Linked DNA regions of Homo sapiens: region 2 is linked to region 1. The links come from fine-mapping of genetic effects on gene expression. Tissue or cell type: blood mononuclear cells. Region 1 holds a variant in brackets; the other region holds the start of a gene. All regions are shown on one strand. Distances are from middle to middle.

Region 1 (2,762 bases):
TTTCAAGGCTGAGTCATATTCCATTATGTCTAAATACTACGTTTTCTTTCTTTTTTTTAAATAGGGCATATTCTTTTAATTTTTAATTTTTGTGTGTACATAGTAGAGTAGGTGTGTTTATTTATGGGGTATATGAGATATTTTGATACAGGAATGCAATGCATAGTGATCACATCAGGGTAAATGGAGTATCCATTACCTCAAGCCTTTGTGTTATAAACAATCTAATTATACTCTTTTAGTTATTTTTAAATGTACAACTAAATTATTTTTTACTATAGTCACCCTGTTGTACTATCAAATACTAGGTCTTATTAATTCTCATTTAAATACCACATTTTCTTTATCCATTTATTTGTTGATGGACACTTAGGTTGATACAAAATCTTAGCTATTGTGAATAGCTCTGCAATGAACTTGGAAGAGCAGGTATCTCTCTGACATATTGTTTTCATTTCCTTTGGATATATAATCAGAAATGGAATTGCTGGGTCATATGGTAGTTCTAATTTTAATTTTTTGAGGAACCCTAATACAGTTTTTAATAACAGCTGTAGTAATTTACATTCCCACCAACAATATACAGGGTTTCCTTTTTTTTTTCACAGTTTCACTAGCACTTGTTATCATTCATCATTCTGATAATAGCCATTCTAACAGGTGTGAGATAATATTTCATTGTGTTTTAATTTGCATTTTTCTGATCAGCAGTGATGTTGAGCATTTTTTCATATACCTGTTGGCCATTGTATGTCTTCTTTTGAAAAATGTCTATCCAGTTTTTTTTTGGGGGGGGTGCTAGATGAACTTTAATGTTCATACTTATTTTATATATATATCCAATGAAAGTCAGCCATGAAGATGGGCACCCAACTCTATAAATCTTTGGTTTTCCTCTTTTTAAAATCACTTTCTATGAAGTTGTGGGGGATGTATAATGAAGCAGCAGTTCTTTTTTCCAGTTTTGACCTGACTAGGTAAACAATCCTCTCTTGCATAATCAAAACAAATTTTTTCATAACATTTATCTCACACTCAGAGAAAATATAAGTGACTAAATGAAACAGGTTACATACCAAAGGGAAAATCTTTGTTCTTTTGTCTATTCAGGAAAGCCATATATTTTTTAGCTGACCAATTTCTTTCTCAGAGTTCATATTAATTCATATATCTCCATGCTGGGTTTAATCTTACTTAGCTTGTAAGTGCGGTTCTTCATCCCTGTCTTTTCTTGATGTTACTTGTGGCTCACAGCACTTAAAGTTCCTTAGGATGTCTCAAATTCTTGAGATTTCTGGACACCTTTTTTGATGTTTGAAATCAAAATGTTGACTTGTTTCTGTGAAAAGGGAAAGCAGTCACTGCAAGTCATATATATATATATACACATATATACACACACACACACACACACACACACACACATACACACACACACACACATAATTAAAAAAGAAATCTGGAAGTTGCCAAAGGAAGTTATGAGAATGCTGAAAAGCAAGAGAAATACCCTGCAGGAAACCAAAATTTCGAAAAGGCAGGGATAAGAAAACCTCAGACATTCCGGAAGTTTTACATGACACCCAACAATT[A/G]GGTATATTTTTTATTTTGGCCAACCCATCTGCTATTTTGAGGTTTTTTTTTGTTTTTTTTTTTTTTTGGCAATGCTGATGACATGCTGTCTTTCATATAAATTTACTGCTTTTACCCTTTTTGGAAACATGCTCCTTCTAATTTCCCTTAACACTTGAGTCACTGGATGGAGGTAGAGCAGGATAGGAGAGGGGAGGAGATAGGAACAGAAAGGGTGCTATTGATAAAGCGCTGCGCAGAGCCAATGAAAGTCAGCCATGGAGGTGGGTGCCTGGTTCTACTGAGGATCCACTTCATCAGCAAGCAGGCTCTACTGCTTGGGGTTTTCTGATGTAAAGAAATGAAGCTACATGTTTTTCTAGTGATGGATTTATCATTAGTTATACACATATTTTTGTATGGGCCTTTTTGGGAAAAAAAGGGTTTGCTCTGAACATGCCCCTTGCTCAATTGTTAGTAAAATAATCTTTCTATAATTGAGTTTAATGGCCATTTTAGGAGTGGAAAAAGAAAGACGTGGTACTATCAAGACATTGTATAAACAAAGGTTATTATGCAGTGAGAGAGAGAGAGAGAGAATCAGAGAATGGAACCCACCTTAGGGCTAACAATTAAATTAGAGTGGGATCTTGACATGAATATTTTTTAAAACTCCTAAGATGATTTAATGTATAACTAGGCTTGTGAACCATAGATAGAAAATTGAGACTGATACTTAGCTGTTTTTATTTTCATTTAAACCGTAGTTATTATAGATTTTTAAACAAGTTGAGTGTTATGCCAATGTTCTTTTAAATATTTTTAACCTGTTCTGCAAATAGACAGCAGGCTATAATGGCTTTATCTGTTTAGAGCATTATTTTTTAAAAAGAGATATGAGGCCAGGTGTGGTGACTCACACCTGTGATGCCAGCACTTTGGGAGGCTGAGGCAGGAGGATCACTTGAGGCCAGGAGTTCGAAACTAGCCTGGGCAACATAGGGAGACTCTGACTCTACAAAAAATAATATTAAAAAAATTAGCCAGGCATGGTGGTGCACACTTGTAGACCTAGCTATTTGGGAGGCTGAGGAGGGTCATCTGAGGCCAGGAGTTTGAGGTTACTCTGAGCTATAATTGTGCCACTATATTCTAGCCTGGGTAACAGAGTGAGACCCCGTCTCTACAGA
Region 2 (2,500 bases), 240 kb after region 1:
TGTTGCTAAATGAGAGACTTTTCAGATTCCCTTTCCACTCTGAGTTTAGAGTTCAAGGCGGGGGAATCTTAAAGGAGAACTTTCCACACTCTTGGAGTAAATAACAATTGAAATATAAAAAATCTGGCGGCGGGGGATGGAGGGGGCATTCTGTAATGGAACTTGTCAGCAAAAAGAAAATGGCAAATAAATGTGAGAAAGGGGCCGAAGGAGGGCAAGACAGTACATAGGGTGCCCCCCACCCACCCGGCTTTTAATGATTCAAGCAAAAAAATCTCTGCTTTGTGTGTAACTGGCACGGTGAACGTGGGAAAGGACACGAAGACCTTTCTCTCCCCACAGCTGGTCCAACTTTCCAATTTTCAGGTTGTTCACAGTGATTTCACTTTCAGTGGAAACGGGCGTCCCATCCCCAGGAAAGGAAGGCTTTCCTGCATGTGTAAAAAAGTAAACTGTTACTTTGTCCTTGCAAAAGAAAACTTCATTCTCTGAACTTCCCCGGGATCTGCAAAGCGCCCCGCGGAACTCCCGGTACTTAGTAGAAGCTCATTAAAGGTCTCTGTTCCCCTTTGCTCCCCGTTCGCCCGCTGGCCCTTTCTCAGAGCCAGACAGGCACAGCGCTGAGAAGGGAAGAAGTCCGAACAGGGAGCTGTGAAGACAAAATAAGGGAGTCCCGAGTCAGTACCCTTTAGTCCAAAGAAAGGGAGCGGGATGGGGGGAAAGGCAGCCCCGCCCTGGGACTGAAAAGTCTGGATTCTTAACAGCTGCAAGGTCGTGGATATTTTATGGGTTTTCTTCCTCACAAAATACACTCCTATAAGCAGAGATTCCCCCCCTCCACCCCGAAGAGAGGTGACGCAATGTCCTCAAACACTACCACCACCCCCAATAAAAAAGAAAAGGGAAGGGGGAGCGTCTTGCAACCCCTTCGCTTCACACAAGTCCAGCCACTCCCTTTCCTCCCAGCCGCTTCCCATCCCTTCCCCCATCCCCTAAAAAGTTTGATGACCGCAAAGGAAACCGAAAAAAAGTTGTCTTGCCCCAGTCCTGGCGGGCCATCAGCATCTCTTTTGTTCGCTGCGAACCCACAGTCCCCCGTGACGTCACCCGGAGCCCGGGCCAATCGGCGCGCGGTCGGCTGCGGCGGCCGGCGGGCGGGCGGGCGGGTGGGGTGGGGCGGGGCGGGGACAGCCCGGCGGGTCTCTCCTCCCCCGCGCCCCGGGCCTCCAGAGGGGCGGGAGGGGACCGTCCCATATAAGCCCCGGCTCCCGGCGCTCGGACGCCCGCGCCGGCTGTGCTGCACAGGGGGAGGAGAGGGAACCCCAGGCGCGAGCGGGAAGAGGGGACCTGCAGCCACAACTTCTCTGGTCCTCTGCATCCCTTCTGTCCCTCCACCCGTCCCCTTCCCCACCCTCTGGCCCCCACCTTCTTGGAGGCGACAACCCCCGGGAGGCATTAGAAGGGATTTTTCCCGCAGGTTGCGAAGGGAAGCAAACTTGGTGGCAACTTGCCTCCCGGTGCGGGCGTCTCTCCCCCACCGTCTCAACATGCTTAGGGGTCCGGGGCCCGGGCTGCTGCTGCTGGCCGTCCAGTGCCTGGGGACAGCGGTGCCCTCCACGGGAGCCTCGAAGAGCAAGAGGCAGGCTCAGCAAATGGTTCAGCCCCAGTCCCCGGTGGCTGTCAGTCAAAGCAAGCGTGAGTACTGACCGCGGGCTGAAACAGGCTGCCTCAGGGATGGGACCCTAAAGCCGACCAAAGTTGGGGCTGAAGTTTTGTGCGCGCGCGTGTGTGCGAGTGTGTGCGCGCTTTACTGAGAGAAACCAGCTGTGCACACAAAAGGACCGAGTTTTGAGCACGCTGGTTCTGAGGGCCTGGGATGATAAGACCGTGCATTGGAGGACGAGGACTCTGCGACTTTCCCGTGTTCTAATAAATTCTGCACGTTCAGATTGTCCTTCTAGGAATTAACCAAAACTTGCCTTTAAAGAGAAAAATGATGCATGTCTATAAATTTTCCGTCTGGGATTAGTGTGGTCCTTACTGCTACTTATTTCCTTCTGTTAAATAATTGGTCAAATATTTTCAACATGGGGGTGGAAAGGGGGTATTGAAATAGCTGTCTTGTTTCTAACTAACTTGGAAGAGATGTAATTGGTTCAGACCTCTTTAGGGCCGCTCAGGATACTTCACCAAGAACAGAGGTTGGAATTCTTTCCGTTTTTCAAAGACACACCCTCCTTTTGCTTTGAGAAAGCTGCTTAAAGTTGTCCTTTTTGACTATTACTCCAAAAGAATATTTAAGTTCCTTGCATGTTTTAAAAATGTGACTTCAATTGTCTGCCTTCCAAAATGTTTCCAACTTTTTTATGTAGACCCCTGGCCAGATGGAAATGACATCATTGTATATAACTTTTAGCAAAGTTAAAAGGAAAAAAATATGTACGTCAATATTCACATGAAGAAAATTCCATAATTTTGGGAAAAGGAGAAATGCAAATGT

What was found. PIP is the estimated chance that this variant, and not a neighbour inherited with it, causes the effect.
Region 2: FN1 starts here. The variant in region 1 is fine-mapped to the expression of FN1 in blood mononuclear cells (TOPMed, PIP above 0.99). The same link has a PIP of 0.9 or more in T cells and monocytes.

Annotation. Positions count from the first base shown.
Region 1 is chr2:215,676,521-215,679,282 of GRCh38, reverse strand. All of the region lies in intron 5 of LINC00607 (long intergenic non-protein coding RNA 607), which reads left to right. It overlaps LOC102724861 (a long non-coding RNA gene), which reads right to left. Exons shown (of 8, transcript NR_187737.1): 5 at 1,077-1,339. Among named protein-coding and RNA genes, the nearest start is that of LINC01614, 40 kb to the left of the region's middle. The variant A/G (reference allele first, on the strand shown) is at 1,593.
Region 2 is chr2:215,434,850-215,437,349 of GRCh38, reverse strand. FN1 (fibronectin 1) reads left to right here and starts at 1,282. Exons shown (of 46, transcript NM_212482.4): 1 at 1,282-1,695. The coding sequence starts at 1,548. It overlaps FN1-DT (FN1 divergent transcript), which reads right to left and starts at 1,659. Exons shown (of 2, transcript NR_187198.1): 1 at 1,041-1,659; 2 at 1-431. RefSeq lists silencers at 1,099-1,188, 1,199-1,258.